Regions from separate parts of the Homo sapiens genome. Here all the other regions are linked to region 1. The links come from fine-mapping of genetic effects on gene expression. A gene starts in region 1. Each other region holds a variant in brackets. All regions are shown on one strand. Distances are from middle to middle. Region 1 holds the start of CATSPERG (catsper channel auxiliary subunit gamma). Region 2 holds the start of RASGRP4 (RAS guanyl releasing protein 4). Region 3 overlaps SPINT2 (serine peptidase inhibitor, Kunitz type 2).

Evidence for each region. PIP is the estimated chance that this variant, and not a neighbour inherited with it, causes the effect.
Region 2: its variant is the best candidate, but not a certain one, in a credible set for the expression of CATSPERG in prostate (GTEx, PIP 0.67).
Region 3: its variant is the best candidate, but not a certain one, in a credible set for the expression of CATSPERG in whole blood (TOPMed, PIP 0.72).

The regions. Positions count from the first base shown.
Region 1 is chr19:38,333,006-38,339,396 of GRCh38, forward strand. It overlaps CATSPERG (catsper channel auxiliary subunit gamma), which reads left to right and starts at 2,825. Exons shown (of 29, transcript NM_021185.5): 1 at 2,825-2,870; 2 at 4,216-4,499; 3 at 4,588-4,641. The coding sequence starts at 4,230. RefSeq lists enhancers at 2,564-2,858, 2,663-2,872 and silencers at 2,993-3,072, 3,443-3,612.
Region 2 is chr19:38,423,612-38,430,002 of GRCh38, forward strand. It overlaps RASGRP4 (RAS guanyl releasing protein 4), which reads right to left and starts at 2,608. Exons shown (of 17, transcript NM_170604.3): 1 at 2,458-2,608. The coding sequence starts at 2,480. RefSeq lists silencers at 2,484-2,543, 6,065-6,265 and an enhancer at 3,436-3,950. The variant A/T (reference allele first, on the strand shown) is at 3,618.
Region 3 is chr19:38,269,620-38,276,010 of GRCh38, forward strand. All of the region lies in intron 1 of SPINT2 (serine peptidase inhibitor, Kunitz type 2), which reads left to right. Among named protein-coding and RNA genes, the nearest start is that of SPINT2, 8.2 kb to the left of the region's middle. The variant T/C (reference allele first, on the strand shown) is at 3,076.

The DNA of each region.
Region 1 (6,391 bases):
GGTGCAATGAAGCACATCTGTAATCCCAGCACTTTGGGAGGCTGAAGCGGGTGGATCGCTTGAGGTCAGGAGTTCGAGACCAGCCTGGCCAACATGGTGAAACTTTGTCTCTACTAAAAATATAAAAATTAGTCGGGTACGGTGGCAGATGCCTGTAATCCCAGCTACTCAGGAGGCTGAGGCAGGAGAATTGCTTGAAACGGGGAGGTGGAGGTTGCAGTGAGCTGTGATGGCACCACTGCACTCCAGCCTGGGCGACAGAGTGAGACTTTGTCTCAACAAAAAAAAAAAAAAAAAAAGGGAAAAAAAGAAGATGAAAAAGAAACCCCCATCTCTAAAAAAAAAAAAGTAAAAATAAAACAAATTAACTGGATATGATGACTCGCATCTGCAGTTCCAGCTACTTGGGAGGCTGACATGGGAAGATCACTTGAGCCTGGGAGTTCGAGGCTGCAGCGAGCAATGATTGCGCCACTCCACTCCAGCCTGGGTGAGAGAGTGAGACCCCGTTTCTAAAAAAACAAAATAAAAAAAAAAGGGCTCTGGTACATGGCTACTGAGTTTCTTCCCCTAGAAGATGTCACCGTTCCCTAGCCTGCGGGGGTGGGCTGGGGTGGGAAGGATAGACCACCATCATCGGTTCATTTACATAAAACAACTATTATATGCGGTGCCTGGCAGGGCTGGGGGACAACAGAGGCAGAGAAAGCCATACACCCTGCCCTCACGGAGCTTGTGATCCAGTGGAAAAGAAACACCCATTTCCAGTCATGAGTGGCCTAGAGGGGCCAAGAGGTAGGATGAGGGCTGGTCATGTATCACAGAGAAGACCTAAAGGAAGGAAAGTGGTGGGCCCTGTTAAAAAGCATGGAATGGTATTCCAGAGGGCATTACTGAGTCTGCACAGGTCTGGAGCATGCATGGCTCACACCTGACCAAGGATATTCAAGTCGCTCCATGTGACCAGACTGTGGACCACAGAGGTCTAAGGGGGAGAGGGCAGATGAGCCAGATAGAATGACAGGGAGGAGAGTATGAGGGGCTCTGGAAACCGAGGGGTTTGGAAGTTTTCCTGAGGGCCTAGAGGGTCATGGAAGGTTCTAGAGCACTGGTTCTCAAGGTGTGGTCTCCAGACCACTAGTATCAGCATCACCTAGGAACTTGCCAGAAATACAAATTATCAGGCCCCACTCCAGATCTACTGAATGAAAAATTCTGGAAGTAGCCAGGTAGTTACTCAGGAGGCTGAGATGGGAGGCTCACATGAGGCCTGAAATTCAAGGCTAACCTGAGATAGGGTGTTGCTCTTTTGCCCAGGCTGAAATGCAGTGGTGTGATCACAGCTCACTGCATTTCCGTGTATTTCAGAGCTCACTGCAGCCTCAAACTCCTGGGCTCAAGTGGTCTTCCTGCCTCAACCTCCCAGGTAGCTGGGGTCACAGGGATGGACCACCACACTGGGCTAATTTAAAAAAATTGTTAGCAACAGGGTCTTACCATATTGCCCAGGCTGGCCTCAAGCGATCCTCCTACCTCAGCCTCCCAAAGTACTGGGATTACAGGTGTGCAGCACCACATCTGGCTTAATTTTTTTTTTTTTTTTTGAGACAGGGTCTCATTCTGTCGCCCAGGCTGGAGTGCAGTGGAGGGATCTCGGCTCACTGCAACCTCCGCCTCCTGGGTTCAAGCAACTCCTGCCTCAGCCTCCCGAGTAGCTGGGATTACAGGTGCCCGCCGCCATGCCCGGCTAATTGTTGTATTTTTTGGTAGAGACAAGGTTTTATCATGTTGGCCAGGCTGGTATCCAACTTCAGACCTCAAGTGATCCGCCTGCCTCAGCTTTCCAAAGTGCTGGGATTATAGGCATGAGCCACTATGCCCAGCCAGAGACTCCATCTTTAAAACAAAAACAAAAACTCAGGGTGTGGTACCCACCAACCTGGCTTACCCAGCCTTTTAGGTGAGTCTAATGCATGCTCAAATTTGAAAACCACTGGGTTAAACGTCTGGTCTGGAGTTCATCAAAAAGTCATGGCCTGAATCCTTACCTGTAAGGCATCAGAATGCAAATGAAAATTAACTTAATGAATATTTTACTTGAGCCGGGCACACTTCCCACAACAGTATAGGATGGCTGTCCTTGTCCTGTTTTGTAGAGGACGGTGCTAAGCAGCCTATTCATTCTCACAAGGTCTCCAGGAAACCACACTTTTTTAAGGAGTAGAATTTTGGGGTAGGGCCGGGCGCAGTGGCTCACGCCTGTAATCCCAGCACTTTGGGAGGCCGAGGCGGGTGGTTCGCCTGAGGTCAGGAGTCGAGACCAGCCTGGCCAACATGATGAAACCCCGTTTCTACTAAAAATACAAAAAATAAATTAGCCAGGCGTGGTGGCGGGAGCCTATAATCCCAGCTACTCGGGAGGCTGAGGCAGGAGAATCGCTTGAATCCGGGGCAGGGGCGCGGAGGTTTCAGTGAGCCGAAATCGCGCCACTTCACACTCCAGCCTGGGAGAAAGAGCGAAACTCCGTCTCAAAAAAATATATATATATATATATTTGGGTAGGAAGCACAAGTAGGGACCGTGCTTGCTGCCAGAACAACCAATAGAAACTCCTTGAAGGCCTTCCTGGCACAAACGTAGTCTCCAGCACCCTCTGCCGACCAGGCCCCGCGCCCTCAGTGCTGAGACAGCCTCCAGCCCTCGGTGCCTTAGGGGTTGCGCGTCACCTTGGAGACCGCGTGAGAGGAGGGCGTGCCTCTGCAAAGGCGGAAGTCGGCTGTGGAAGTGTGGGCGGCCATTTTGAGACCGGGCAAGAGGGGCGGGACTGGTGCGGCCGAGTGACAGTTGACCGGTTTTAACCAAGTGACTGGTACCACGGGGCCGGGGAAAAAGCTGTGCCATCCAGGGGCGGGGGGATGCCGGGGACGGGGAGGAACTAGGAAGGGGAGGGGAAGGGGAAGGCGAGAAGGGGAGAGGCAGGGGAAAGAGGGGAAGAGTCGTGGGAGCTGGGAGAGGAGGGAAAGAGGGGAAGAGTCGTGGGAGCTGGCAGAGGAGGGAAAGGGGGAGCCGAACGTGAAGGGCGAAGGGCGGGGCGGGGCAGGAGAGTCGGGGTATAGAGCAGGCAGGTGTTAATGGCATGGGAAGGAAGAGTAAGAAGTGGGGCAAGAAGGTGTCGCGGTACGAGGGGAAGGTGAGACTCAAGAAGGTGCCGGCTAAGAAGCTGGTGCCGGCGTGGAAGGAGAAGGTGTGGGGCGAGGAAACAACGAAGGGCGAGGAAAGATCCCGAGGCGAAGAGACAGTTTTCATCGAGAAGGGGCAGGGCGAGGAGGAGGGGCGTTACCAGAGGGCGGGACGGGGCGACGGGCCCGCGCGGGAAGAACCAATCGCCGAGAACCCGGGGAAGGAACGGGTCCATAAAGACCAAGTGGAGGAGTAGGGGCGCGGTCAGGAGCGGAAGCAGAGTGAGGAGCAAGCCCCGGGCGAGAAACGGGGGCCCGGCCGGGAGCAAGAGCAGGGGCGGGGCCGGGAGCAAGAGCAGGGGCGGGGCCCGGAGACGGGCGAGACCAGGTACAGTACCCAGCCCCTGGGCAGACCCCGAGCGAGGAGAAAGCGGCGATACCAAGAGAAGTGCGAGGGTGGGGCAAGAGGTTGGGGCACAGCCGGGTGGAAGTACACGGGTGCGATCGCAGGCAGAAGCAGTACGGGGGAACTTAAGAGGGGGACTGTCAAAGCGAGAAATAGAAACCAAGACCAGGTGAAGAGCAAGAGTGGAATACAGGGAGGGGGCGGAATAAGGAGCAAGGTGAGGATAAAGTTAAAGGAAGAGACGTGGAGGCGGCGGGGCGGAACGAGGCGGAGGAGCAGGGGTGTGGCCAGAAACATTAGTAGGGCTGGGGCCCGGAGCAATAGCAGAGGTGCGATACCCACGAGGGTCGGGGGCAGGGCCAGGAGCAAGAGCAGGGGCGGGACCAGGAGCAAGTGCAGAGGCGGAGCCAGGAACAAGAGCAGAGGCGGGGCTAAAAGTCCGTGCGGGGGCAGGGCCAGGAGCAAGAGCAGGGGCGGGACCAAGAGCAAGTGCAGGGGCGGGGCCAGGAGCAAGAGCCGGGGCGTGGCCAGGAGCAAGTGCTGTGAGAGGCGCAGAAGCGAGGTGGAATCTTAAAAGTGGGCTCCAGAGAGCTGTCCGGCGCGTGGGTGTTGACTCCTGCGTTCTCCAGGTTCTAGCCACGTTATGTGCGGCCCAGCCATGTTCCCTGCCGGTCCTCCGTGGCCCAGAGTCCGAGTCGTGCAGGTGCTGTGGGCCCTGCTGGCAGTGCTCCTGGCGTCGTGGAGGCTGTGGGCGATCAAGGATTTCCAGGAATGCACCTGGCAGGTTGTCCTGAACGAGTTTAAGAGGGTAGGCGAGAGTGGTGTGAGCGACAGCTTCTTTGAGCAAGAGCCCGTGGACACAGTGAGCAGCTTGTTTCACATGCTGGTGGACTCACCCATCGACCCGAGCGAGGTGAGGGGACCAGGGTCAAGTGAACCAGAGGGATTTTGAACCCGCACTCCACTCATTTCTGGACGTGTGGCCTAACCTCTCTTTGCAGAAATACCTGGGCTTCCCTTACTACCTGAAGATCAACTACTCCTGCGAGGAAAAGGTGAGTGGGTGCAGCACGGATAGGCTCATTCTATGAGCCTTGGTTTTCCCACCTCTAACATTTTTATTTATTTATTTATTTTATTTTTTTGAGACGGAGTCTTGCGCTGTTGCCCAGACTGGAGTGCAGTGGCGCGATCTCGGCTCACTGCAACCTCCGCCTCCCGTGTTCAAGCGATGCTCCTGCCTCGGCCTCCCAAGTAGCTGGAACTACAGGCATGTGACACCACGCCCGGCTAATTTTTGTATTTGGTAGAGACAGGGTTTCACCACGTTGCCCAGGCTGGTCTCAAACTCCTGACCTCATGTGATCCACCTGCCTCAGACTCCCAAAGTGCTGGGATTACAGGTGTGAGCCACCGTGCCTGGCCCCCATCTCAATATGTGGTAGCACCATCCAACCCTGGTGGCTTTAAGGATTCAAGAAGGCTGTCTGTGTACAGTTCCCAGTAACCCACCAAGCACCTAGTAGGTGCTCAAGTAAGCTTTTTTGTTCCATGTTTTTTTTGTTTTGTTTTGTTTTTGAGACGGAGTCTCGCTCCGCCCAGGCTGGATTGCAGTGGCGCGATCTCGGCTCACTGCAAGCTCCGCCTCCTGGGTTCACACCATTCTCCTGCCTCAGCCTCCCAAGTAGCTGGGACTACAGGCGCCTGCCACCACGCCCGGCTAATTTTTTGTATTTTTAGTAGAGATGGGGTTTCACCGGGTTAGCCAGGATGGTCTCGATCTCCTGACCTCGTGATCCGCCCGCCTCGGCCTCCTAGAGTGCTGGGATTACAGGCGTGAGCCACCTCACCCGGCCTTGTTCCAGGTTTTTAAAGCTATGAGTAGGAGTTTACCATATATATAATTCACACACCATAAAATTCACCATTGTTATTTTTGTTATTTTTCTGAGGCAGGGTCTCACTCTGTTACCCAGGCTGGAGTGCAATGGTGAAATCACAGCTCATTGCAGCCTTGACCTCCTGGGCTCAAGTGAACCTTCTGCATCAGCCTCTTGAATAGCTGGGACTAGTTGTGCGCCACCACACCAGCACGGGAGGATCACTTGCATCCAGAAGCTCAAGACTAGCCTAGGTGAATTTGGCTGGGCATGGTGGCTCCCACCTGTAGAAATGCTAAGGCAGGATCATCATAATGAGCCTAGGAGGTTGAGGCTGCAGGGAACTGTGATCATGCCACTACACTCCAGCCTGGGTGACAGAGTGAGACCCTGTCTTTGTTTTTATTAATTAATTAATTAATTTTTGAGATGGAGTCTCACTCTGTTGTTGGGGTGATCAGACCCAACACCAGGTCGGGGGGAGGGGGTGGCGACGAAGTCCGGCGGAGTCAAAGGATTGAGAAAAAGGCAGTTTGAGAGAGAGAAGTAAAGTGGGACCAGAGGGCCATTGCTAGTGTATGGAGGCTGCTAAAGCCCCGAGCTCTGGGAGCCCACGCTATTTATTGGTAATCCAACAAAGAAACAGGTGGTGAGAATGTGGAGGTCAAAAGGGCACATTGCATTAAGCACATGATTTACAGCTGTGATGGTTTAGCATTTGCTCTGCTGCTTGAGATAATGGAGAGCAGGTTCTTTTAACTCAAGATACAATCAATCCTGGGAGCGCAAGGAGCAAGCAAGTCTAGACACATTCCAGAGCCATGAGCCCTGGATTCTATCGAGGCCATGAGGGATTTTATGCCCTTGGCTTAGATTATGGTGCATGATGGTAGGCTTCCACCCTTTAGCACAGAGCTTGGTGTTC
Region 2 (6,391 bases), 91 kb after region 1:
GGATCACTTGAGGTCAGGAGTTCGAGACCAGCCTGGCCAACATGGTGAAACCCCATCTCTATTAAAAATACAAAAATTAGCCAGGCGTGGTGGTGGGCTCCTGTAATCCCAGCTACTCAGGAGGCTGAGGCAGAAGACTTGCTTGAACCCAGGAGGCGGAGGTTGCAGTGAGCCGAGATCGTGCCACTGCACTCCAGCCTGGGCAACAGAGCGAGTCTTAGTCTCAAAATAATAATAATAATAATAGTAATAATAGTAATAATAATTCTCCCTCTGCCTGGTGCCTCCCAGAGGCTGCTGTTCCTGATAGGGGAAGAGGGTAATGGAGAGACAAGGATGGTGGGAGCAGGGAGGCTGCTGAATCCAAGCTTCAGACGAAAGTAGAATCCAGAAATTTTTGCCAGCTGTTGTGACTTCGTGTTAGTCACTTAATTTCTCTGGGGCTCAATTTCCTCGAAGGAAAAATGAGGATAGTCCTTGGACCTTCTCCAGGGATTTCTTTTTTCTTTCTTTCTTTCTTTTTTTGGAGACAGGGTCTCACTCTGTCACCCAGGCTGGAGTGCAGTGGTGCGATCTCAGCTCACTGCAACCTCCACCTCCCGGGTTCAAGCAATTCTCCTGCCTCAGCCTCCCAAGTAGTTGGGACTACAGGCACGTGCCACCACGCCGAGCTAATTTTTGTATTTTTAGTAGAAATGGGGTTTCACCATGTTGGCCAGGCTGGTTTCAAACTCCTGGGCCCAACTGATCCTCCCACCTTTGCCTCTGAAAGTGCTGGGATTACAGGTGTGAGCCATCACGCCAGGCTCCCACCTCTACCCTTTTTCAGACAGGGTCTTGCTCTGTCTCCCAGGCTGGAGCACAGTTGTGCAATCAAAGCTCATTGTAACCTTGAACTCCTGGACTCGAGTGATCCTCCTGCCTTAGTCTCCCAGGTAGCTGGGACTACAGGTGTGCACGACCATACCCAGCTAATTTTGTGTGTGTGTTTGGGTGTGTGTCAATGGGGGGGGGGGTCTCACTATATTTCTCAGGCTGGTCTAGAACTCCTGGCTTCAAGTTCTCCTTGTCTTATCCTCCCAAAGTGCTGGGATTAGAGGCATGAGCCATCGTTACTAGAAGGGACATTTTAAAGTATTATATATGTCCTAGGCTAAGGAAGGAGCATTCTAACTAAGTCAGCATTTCCCTAAGTGTGGGCACCCAGCTAGTACCAAAAGCATCACCTGGGAACTGGATATCAATACAGATTCTCAGGTCCCAACCCAGACCTACAAAATCAAACACTTTAAGGCTAAGGGTGGTGGCTCATGCCTCTAATCCCAGCACTTTGGGAGGCCGAGGTGGGTGGATCACGAGGTCAAGAGATCGAGACCATCCTGCCCAACATGGTGAAACCCCATCTCTACTAAAAATACAAAAAAGTAGCTGGGTGTGGTGGTGCACACCTGTAGTCCCAGCTACTTGGGAGGCTGAGGCAGGATGATCGCTTGAACCCGGGAGGCAGAGGTTGCAGTGAGCCAAGATTGTGCCACTGCACTCCAGCCTGGCGGCAGAGCGAGACTCCGTCTCAAAAAAAAAAAACAAAAAAAAAAAAACCAAACACTTTAAAGGTAAGCCCAGCAACCTGTATTTTACAAGCCCTCCAGACAGTTCTGAGGCTCGCTCCAGTTTGAGAACCACTGGTCTAGAGTGTCTCATTGAGTACTTACAGGCCTCTCCGAGGTAGAGGATATGATTGTTCTACTGACAGAAGAAAAACCCGAGACACAGAGCAGTTAAGTGACTTACCTAAGGTCACACAGCTAGGAAATTAGGCAGCCAGGAGTCTACCACTAAACTGCTGGGTGGGGAGGAAAGCCCTTTGCCCATCAGAGTGGTGCTGGGGGTGGCAGGAGGAGTTACCCAGGCTAGGGAGCCACCCACCATCTGCCTCTGTGGGGACAGAAGGGCCAGCTTGCCCAGGAGATGAAGCCCATTCCAGAACCGGCCGCACAGCCAGCCACTAGGCCCTGTCCTGCAGCCCCCTGTAGGGGTCTGGAACAGCCAGGAGTGGTTTAAGAGGCAGGGGAGTCGCCTTGCCCTGTGCCACACTCCCCTCTCCTGGGCCAGGCCCTGCAGGAGCCTGGAGTTTCCAGTCCACGGGGATGGGGAACCAGGAAGCCCCCAGGGAGGGCAGAGACACTCAGCCCAGGCCAGGGATGGAGGTGGGGTGATGAGGAGTGGAAAAGGGGCACGGAGCAGCTCAAACTCCAGGGACAACACGGTACAGATGCCACATACAAGCGACTGCAGCCGTAGCTGGCTCCAGACTCCCTGAAGCATCCACCTGGCCCCCCTGCGCCTGATCCCAAAGAAGTCAGGAATCCTGCCACCCTGGCGAGTGATCTCCCCAGCCCTCCCATGCAGAGGGAGGCCTCAGGGTGCTGCCGGGCTCCCTGGGGAGGGTCCTCTCACCTCTTACTGTCTTTTCTGTTCATGCTTCCCGCGTGGGGTGAGGAGGCCGGGGGTCTTGCAAGAGTAGGGCTCAGCTCCTCCCCTTGCCCAGGACTCCAGCTTCTCAGCCCCTAGGGAGCTGGGGCCTCCTCGGTGCTTGGGAAGGAAAGAGGAACTGCCCCTCCCCACCCACCCTCAGGCCAGGGGGAAGGAAGAGGCTGGGGAGAGACCGAAGGCCCCCCTCCCCCACACGGGGATCCCTTCTGCTGAGGTTTCCGGCATCGCTGGCTCTCCCACCCTCAAGCTCCCCGGCGGGCTCTCTATCTCCCCCATCTTTCGGTGTCGAGACCCGTCACTGTCATACTTCAATAAAAGAAGGGGCTTTTCTTTTTAAAGCATGACTGATATTTATGTAAAAACACACACACTCACTCAAAAAGATAAGTCTGTCTGTCTAGAAGGACATATTCATATATATAATTCATGAAGGTTTGAATGGAAACTCACAAGACATAGTATTTTGTATATTTCTTCATAGGCGTCTCTTATTCCTAGTTTAAGTGATACCATTTGTACCCTGGAAAACATTTTCACTTTCTGACTTTATTGTAACAAACCTCCACATAGCACCTACTGTGTACCACACACTGCTGTAAGGACTTTAAAAATATTAACTCATTTAATCCTCACACAATCCACTGTTACCTTAAAAAAAATTACATACCGGACCAGGCACGGGGGCTCACAGGGGCTCACGCCTGTCATCCAGCACTTTGGGAGGCCAAGGCAGGCGGATCGCTTGAGTCTAAGAGTTTGAGACCAGCTTGAACAACGTGACAAAACCCCGTCTCTACAAAAAATGTAAAACGTTAGGCCGGTGTGGTGGCTCACTCCTGCAATCCCAGCACTTTGGGAGGCCGAGGTGGGCGGATCACCTGAGGTTGGGAGTTTAAGACCAGCCTGAGCAACATGGAGAAACCCCGTCTCTACTAAAAATACAAAATTAGCCAGGCGTTGTGGCACATGCCTGTAATCCCAGCTACTCGGCAGGCTGAGGCAGGAGAATTGCTTGAACCCAGGAGGCGGAGGTTGCCGTGAGCCGAGATCGCGCCATTGCACTCCAGCCTGGGCAACAGGAGCGAAACTCTGTCTCAAAAAAAAAAAGTTAGCTGAGCGTAGTG[A/T]TGCACACTTGTAGTCCCAGCTACTCAGGAGGCTGAGGCTAGAAGATTGCTTGAGCCCAAGGAGGTCGAGGCTGCAGTGAACCATGATGGTGCCACTGCACTTCAGTCTGCGTGGCAGAGCCAGACCCTGTCTCAAAAAACAAAAAACAAAAAAAAAAAACACACACACACATCAAAAAACATTAGAGATGGAGGTAAAGCCTTGGGGAAGCCCCTCCCCATCCCCTGCCTTTCTTAAGCAGGGTGTGACCAATATGACACGTTGTCGAGTTTCGTCCAAACTGCTGTCTGTGCGTTTAAGCACATCATATAAACATGTGCTCCTAGAAACAGACTTTTCTTTTGAGTGTGCATTTTTTTCTTTTTACCTAAATGTGTCATGCTCGACACTTTTTTTTAAATTGAAGTACAAAAAAGATCACGAATCATTAAGTATTTAGGTTGATGAAATGTCACCAACTGAGCAAACCTGTGTGACATTCATACAAATCCAGACACAGAACATTCTCACCCTCCACAAGCCCCCTGTCTTTCTTCCCAGCACGAATTCCCACAGATCCCCACTCGCCCGAAGTCTGGCGCAGTAGTTTTGTCTTGTTTTGAGCTGGATAAAAATGGACTCCTGTATTGAATCTGGGTTCTTTCTCTCCACGTCTTGTCTTTGCAGTTCTTCCATGTTATCATATTTGGTTATAATTTATTCCTTTTTTTGGCCGGGCGCGGTGGCTCACGCCTGTAATCCCAGCACTTTGGGAGGCTGAGATGGGCAGATCACTTGAGGTCAGGAGTTCGAGACCCGTCTGGCCAACATGGTGAAACTCCCATCTCTACTACAAATACAAAAATGAGCCAGGTGTGGTGGTGCGTGCCTGTAATCCCAGCTACTTGGGAGGCTGAGGCAGGAGAATCGCTTGAACCCGGGAGGAGGAGGTTGTAGCGAGCCGAGATTGCACCACTGCACTTCAGCTTGGGCGACAGAGCGAGACTCTGTCTCAAAATAATAATAATAATAATAATAATAATAATTCCATATAGTCTTTCATTATGTGACAATTCCATGACTTATATATATATATTTATTTATTTAGAGATAGGTGTTGTGGATAGTGACTAAGCGGGCTGGTGGCATGCTAACTTCTATTTTTTTTTTTTATTTTTGAGACAGAGTCCTGCTCTGTCGCCCAGTCTGGAGTGCAGTGGCGTGATCTCAGCTCACTGCAACCTCTGCGATTGAAGCGATTCTCCTGCCTCAGCCTCCCCAGTATCTGGGATCACAGGTGTGTGCCACCACACCCAGCTAATTTTTGTAGAGACGGGGTTTTGCCATATTGGCCAGGCTGGTCTTGAACTCCTGGTCTCAAATAATCCACCCGCCTCAGCCTCCCAAAGTGCTGGGGTTACAGGCGTGAGTCACAGCACTAAGTTCTATTTTTCATCAGTCTAGAGTCTGGTAATAACTAGACACTAAAACATTTTAAGTTAAGTGAGTTATCTATACAAGAGGACTATATGTCCTAGACTGTAAAAAAAAGACAAACTTATAGCTTCTCTGTTTTTTTTTTTTATTTTTATTTGGTCCTACCAACCTGACTCTTTTTTCTTAATTAAGACTCCACAGCAGGGTCTCCCTCTGTCACCAAGGTTGGAGTGCAGTGGCGAGATCCTAGCTCACTGCGGCCTCGGACTCCTGGGCTTAAGCCATCTTCCCACCTCAGCCTCCTGAGTGGCTAGGACTACAAGTGCACACCACTGTGCTCTGCTAATTTTTTTTTTATTATTTTCCTGTAGAAACAGGGTCTTACTTTGTTGCCTAGGCTGATCTCGAACTCCTAGGCTCAAGCAATCGTCCTTCCTATGCCTCCAAATTGCTGACTCTCCAGGCGTGAACCACTGTCCCCGGCCTCCGTGATTTATTGATCAATTTTCCTGTGATGGACATCTGAGTTGTTTCCAGGTTGGGGCTGCTGTGACTATTTGAGCATCTGACTTTTGATGAACATAGAGTGTACCATATTGTAGGGCAGTACCCAGGAGTGGAATAAATGGGTCATAGTAGTTACTGTGATTCTACCAAACATAGCATGTTAGCAATTCATTGAAATCGTTCTCTCAGAAGTATATTTTTCCACTTTTTTTTTCACTAAAAGAAAGAACCGTGGATGTATATTTTTTCCAATGCAGAACATTTAGACAGTCACTGAACTCGCCGTCTTTAGTTTTTCCATCACGCGATGTTACCATAGCTTCAGACTCTCTCTTCCTGCCCGTTTTCACCCTCTCTCCCCCTGGCCTCATGGTGTTCTGTCTGACTCTCTCAGACCATCTCCTGTAGCACCTGCATCTTGAATGTGACTTAACAATCCTGGCTGAGCAGAGACTTCGTAGTGTGGCAGTGTCTCCAGGCCCTGGGGACCCAGAAAAGCCTCAAGGAGGAGGTCAGAAATCCTGGCACTTGTTTCTACTGTACACAGGCAGCCTTAGTCCTCGGGCTGGCCAAGAATACCCACAATACCCGTGCTGATGACTACAAAGGAAGGGACTTCTGAATCAAACCACAGAAACTCCTAAGGCAGAAAAATGATGGACATGATAACATGCAAATACAGACTTTCTTCTTTTGTTGCTGTTCTTCTTTCTTTCTCTTTTAAATTTTAAAGATGGGGTCTTGCTATGTTGCCCAGGCTGGTCTCAAACTCCTGGGCTCAAGGGATCCTTTCACCTAGACCTCCCAAAGTGCTGAGATTACAGGCAGATTTTCTTTTAACGAAGACACC
Region 3 (6,391 bases), 63 kb before region 1:
TTTTTTTGAGACGGAGTGTCTCGCTCTGTCGCCCAGGCCGGAGTGCAGTGGCGCGTTCTCGGCTCACTGCAAGCTCCGCCTCCTGGGTTCACACCATTCTCCTGCCTCAGCCTCCCGAGTACTGGGACTACAGGCACCTGCCGCCACGCCCGGCTAATTTTTTGTATTTTTAGTAGAGACGGGGTTTCACCGTGTTAGCCAGGATGGTCTTGATCTCCTGACCTTGTGATCTGCCCGCCTCGGCCTCCCAAAGTGCTGGGATTACAGGCGTGAGCCACCGCGCCCGGCCTGAGATGGGATTTCAACATGTGGGCCAGGCTGGTCTCGAACTCCCGACCTCAGGTGATCTGCCCACCTCAGCCTCTCAAAGTGCTGGGATTACAGGCTCGAGCCACGTGGCCCAGCCCTCTCCTGCACTTCCAAGGGATTTTCGAAATGCATGGACCTCTCAGGTTAATTATAGTGTCTGTAGAACCTTAACTGCTGTAAGCTTTCCAGCAGACTCCACAGACGTGTTATTAGTTGCCACCCTTTCTTTACTTTCCTCCTCACCCCCATGGATAGTCGTGACCCTGGTGGTCAGAGATAAGATGACAGAAGAGCTAAAGTAAAGCTGGTGTTGGCGATCAGCTGGGAATTCTCTAAAACAGCTTCTCACATTATTCTTATCCTCCATAGAAGGAGTGCTTGTCCTACTTGCAGGCAAGGCAGTTTGGTTCCAGGGTAGTTCGAAATCTTATTCACTGATATAGTCAGCAAATGTTTATTGAGCACCCACCAATTGCCAGGCACTGACTCACTCAAATTAGAGCACTGAACAAAATAGACCCCCTCCCCCATCCGTGGCAGACGTGTCATAATGAGAGGAAGACAGTACAATAAATGAACAGATGAATGTATGTCTGGTGATGAGTGTCAGGGTTGGTGTGCTTAGCACTGAAAATGGGGGCTTCTGAGGTTCAAATGGTTGCAGTTCCTAAAGAAGGTTGAGGGCCTTGCCTTCAGGTCACCGCGGGAGACTGGCCCCTTTCCACTGGAAACATTGCTTTGCCCAGTCAGTATTTGAGAGCTCAGCCTGCAATGGAGAAATCACACTTCTCCTCTTTCACCCTGCTCCCCACCCTGTTTCTCATTTTACCCATCCCCAGCCATTTGCAGAATGCATGCAGAGCTTCTGTTTGCCATGTCTGGAGGCTACAGGGGAGGCTGAATAAGGGGTGATAAGCCTGTGGCTCATGTGAGGCGGGAGAGAGCCCAGCAGGAGTCACACTGAAATGACTCCATTAGCCCCAGGAGGCCTTGGCCCACCGGCCATGACTAATGTGGACATTAGAGTGTGGATTCCGATGTCCTGCAAGATCCTCCTCACAAGTGTCATTTCATGGTTTTTTTCTGGCAACATCTTTTTGAAAACTCCCTGTAAAGAAGTGCTGATGTTGATGCTGAGGCCCAGGAACTTTGGAGTTTATTTACCTTTTTTTGTTGTTTTATTTTCCTTGGCAGGTGAAGTAGGAGCTAGAGTTTACTTATTTTGAAGTTTATTTGAAATATGCTTTTTATGATTAGAAGCCATTTTAGAAATGAGGGCGAGGCCGGGCGCGGTGGCTCATGCCTGTAACCCCAGCACTTTGGGAGGCCGAGGCAGGCGGGTCACGAGATCAGGAGATCGAGACCATCCTGGCTAACACGGTGAAAACCCGTTTCTACTAAAAATACAAAAAAATTAGCCTCGCGTGGTGGCGGGCGCCTATAGTCCCAGCTATCTGGGAGGCTAAGGCAGGAGAATGGCGTGAACCCAGGAAGTGGAGCTTGCAGTGAGCTGAGATCATGCCACTGCACTCCAGCCTGGGCAACAGAGCAAGACTCTCTCAAAAAAAAAAAAAATGTTATGCTAAGTGAGAGGAGCCACTTACAAGAGACCACCACATGTTTGGCCGGGTACAGTGGCTCATGCCTGTAATCCCAGCACTTTGGGAGGCCGAGGTGGGTGGATCACGAGATCAGGAGTTCAAGACCAGCCTGGCCAAGATGTTGAAACCCCATCTCTACTAAAAATACAAAAAAAAATTAGCCGGGTGCAGTGGCAGGCGCCTGGAGGCTGAGGCAGGAGAATCGCTTGAACTCGGAGGGTGGAGGTTGCAGTGAGCCGAGATCACGCCACTGCAGTCCAGCCTGGGAGACAGAGTGAGACTCCATCTCAGAAAAAAAAGAGGGCAAGAATTCACATGTTGTTTTACTCACACGTGTTGGAGATGGAGCTCAGGGTGATTCCTGACTGGGCCCAGGGTCCATGGCCTCAGAAGTCCCTTAATCTGAAGTCCTTCACTTTTATGTGATACTGCTGGGCACAATGGCTCACGCTTGTAATCCCAGCACTTTGGGGGGCTGAGGCAGGTGGATTGCTTGACTGAGGAGTTTCAACATGGTGAAACAAAAAATACAAAAAACTAGTCAGCCTGTAGTCCCAGCTATGTGGGAGGCTGAGGTGGGAGAATTGCTTGAGCCCAGGAAGTGGAGGTTGCAGTGAGCCGAGATCGCACCATTGCACTCCAGCCTGGGCGACAGAGCGAGACCCCATCTCAAAACAATTTTATATGTGATAGTTTGTCCATGTGTATGCCAGGGTCTGTCATTTAGAGTGTATGGCATGTTCTTAAAGGGGTGGGGGAACAAAAAGATACTATAATAGTTTGTGACCTTTTGAAGGGCCGCTCTACATGAATAGATATATAGTATGTCTGTGGTGTTAAAATTTTGTGGGGCGATTAGGAAAAACATTTCCAAAAAGTCTTAGGGGGAAGGTAGTAATGAAAAAAGGTTGAGAAACACCATTCCAGAGAGAGGGTCCAAGAGCTTTCCTCAGTTCTGAAAATGGTCCATGATTTGCACAAGGTAAAGAATGGCTGAATGCGAATTAACAGCAGACAGTTTCTTAGAAGATTTGAAACTATTGTTTCCTTCCCAGCTATTCAGATGGACTGCTCGGGTTCTTGTTATGGATTGAGGCGAGGGTAGACTTAATAGTCTTGTTTCAGAGTGGAATATGGAGTGATGGTAGGCATGAGTAGTGATGAG[T/C]TGCATTGTGCTGATAGGTTATGAAATGTAAATTTTTTATTTTTTGATATGGAGTCTCTGTCGCCCAGACTCTGGAGTGCAGTGGTGCGATCTCGGCTCACTGCAACCTCCACCTTCTGGGTTCAAGCGATTCTCCTGCCTCAGCCTCCTGAGTAACTGGGATTACAAGCATGCACCACCACGCCCGGCTCATTTTTTTGTATTTTTAGTAGAGACGGGGTTTCACCATGTTGGCCAGGCTGGTGTTGAACTCCTGACCTCAGGTGATCCACCTGCCTCAGCCTCCCAGAGTGCTGGGGTTACAGGCGTGAGCCACCGTGCCCGGCCTGAAATGTAAACTTTTATATCTAAATATTTTATATAGAAAATACCAAGATTTTATATCTGAAACACCAAGATTTTATGAGCCTCATAACTTAAGTAGGATTTGTAATTGTAAATGTTCTTTCCTCATAAATACCTGAGGTTTTTTTTTGAAAGGTTCTGAATTGTCTCAATAATGAAAACTTCCAGACACCCAAGCCTAGAGGAGATGGGTAGTTGGTAGCTTTCTGTACTGGAAACAGAAACACTCAAATATATAGAACCTAGCCAGCTAACCAAAGTAGGTAGATTTATAGATCATCTTAAAATAAGGCTGATTACACAGTAAATGTCACCTTTGGAATCTGGCTTGGTAGAATTGAAATAGGCTTCAGTACCTCCTGTCATTCAGTACCTGTTTTCTTGAACTCCTGACTTCAGGTGATCTGCCTCGGCCTCCCAGAGTGCTGGGCTTACAGGCATGAGCCACTGTGCCCGGCCTCAGTACCTCTTTTTAAGATGCTCTCATTCATTCCCTGGTGAAAAGATGCTTGAAGTGCAAGTGCAAGTAGGTGTGGAAAGCATGGAGGGTTTGTGTTGCTTCATTTGTTTTGGTATTTGTTTTTTCCACCAGTCCCTCCCTCTGGCTTTCTGCCTCCCAGCCCAGCATATCCTGATCTTGTAGCCATGCAGGACTTTGACCCGTGTGGTGGTTTGCCATTGTCTTCCTCCAGGTGAAGATAAGACATCATTGGTTTGGCTTGAGGTTGTACTTTTGGCCTTCCCTGTATATCCTCTTCCTCCTTATCCTCTCCGTCAGCATGCTTGGTTGGACTCTGTAGTGAAATGTGTCATTCTCTTTATTCTGACTGTCCCTATATTAGTCCTGTCTTCATAAAAAATACAATCGTAAAGATACAATATCTACTATTTGTTAAAAGTTTTGTGCTAGGCCAGGTGCGGTGGCTCACGCCTGTAATCCCAGCACTTCAGGAGGCCGAGGCGGGTGGATCATTTGAGCCCAGGACTTCAATACTAGTCTGGGCAACATGGTGAAACCTCGTTTCTACAAAAAATGCAAAAATTAACCGGGTATGGTGGCACACGCCTATAGTCCCAGCTACTTGGAGGCTGAGGTGGGTGGGTCACTGAGCACAGGTCAAGGCTACTGTGAGCCAAGATTGTACCACTGTACTCCAGCCTGGGTGACAGGGCAAGTCCCTGTCTCAAAAAAAAAAAGAAAGCTGTGTGCTAAATACTATTTTAAGCAATTATAATGGATTAAAAACTCCTTTAATCTTCACAACAATGTTTTTTCTTTCTTTTTTTTTGAGATGGAGTTCTTTGAAACTCTTGGATTAAATGACTCTTCAGAGCTTTCTTTGCTTTTTGATACTAAGGAGTGGCATGTCTGGGGATTTTTATAGCAAATAACTTCTCCTTGGCTACTATCCTTAGAATTCCAAGTGTTTTTAATGAAAAGAGGAGACTTGTTTTTAGTGATGTTAGTTGTTTTTAGGAAAGGTGTTCTGCAGTGTTTTTCGCTAAGGTGGCTCACGCCTGTAATCCCAGCACTTTGGGAGGCCGAGGTAGGCAGATCACTTGAGGTTAGGAGTTTGAGGCCAGCCTGGCCAGCACAGCAAAACCCTATCTACTGAAAATACACAAAGTAGCCAGGTGTGGTAGTACACTCCTGGAGTCCTAGCTACTCAGGAGGCTGAGGCAGGAGATGACTTGAACCCGGGAGGCAGAGGTTGCAGTGAGCCTAGATCGCACTATTGCATTCCAGCCTGGACGACAGAGTGAGACTGTCTTAAAAAAAAAAAAAAACATAAAATGGAGAGGTAGACCAGCTTACGGGAGGTGTTGCACTTCCCTCTGCCACTGGAGAGACTCTGGATCTGCAGCCAGGGAGCTTGTGAAGGCTTCTTGTCCACGGAAATGAGGGCGGCAGTTGTGACTTTCTGGATGGTGGCCCAGAGGAAGCAACACTGGCAGAGCCTCTTCTGTGAAGCAGCTCTGCGAGCAATTTTGTGACATTGAAAGAGCAAAGGATAAAACGTTGAAAGCTGATCCAGATCTAGAAAAGTGTTTGGCAATTGCTGGAAAAGGTGTAGAAATGATGCTTGCTCTGTATCGTAAGTTATATGGTGAGAAGACCACAAGCACGGTTCAAACTCCCCTTAGAAATTCTTTTGCACAGAAATTAACACTTTAATCCTAAATGTTTCCAATGTTTTAACTTACAGTATGCTAAATAAACATTCTTTCTGTTTGTTTGTTTTGTTTTGTTTTGTTACTCTGTGCATTTATAGCCAATAGAGTTTTTCTTTCCTTATTTTTTTGACACAGGGTCTTGCTCTGTCGCCCAGGCTAGAGTGCAGTGGTGCGATCTCAGCTCACTGCAACCTCCGCCTCCTGAGTTCAAGTGATTGTCCCGCCTCAGCCTCCCGAGTAGCTGGGACTACAGGCGCGCGCCACTGTGCCGGGCTAAGTTTTATATTTTTAGTAGAGATGGGGTTTCGCCATGATAGCCAGGGTGGTCTTGAAATCCTGACCACAGGTGTGAGCCACTGTATCTGGCCAAAAAAATTTTTTTATTTTTTGTAGAGACAGGGTCTCACTATGTTGCCCAGGCTGGTCTTGAACTCGTGACCTCAAATGATCCTCCTGCCTCGGCCTCCCAAAGTGCTGGGATTATAGGTATGAGCCACCATGCCCAGCTTGACAAAAAAATTTTTTTTTTTTTTTGAGAGATGAAGTTTCACTCTTGTTGCCCAGGCTGGAGTGCAATGGATCAGCTCACTGCAACCTGTGCCTCCTGGGTTCAAACGATTCTCCTGCCTCAGCCTCCAGAATAGCTGGGATTACAGGCATGCACCACCACGCCCGGCTAATTTTGTATTTTTAGTACAGACGGGGTTTCTCCATATTGGTCAGGCTGGTCTCGAACTCCTGACCTCAAGTGATCCACCTGCCTCGGCCTCCCAAAGTGCTGGGATTACAGGTGTGA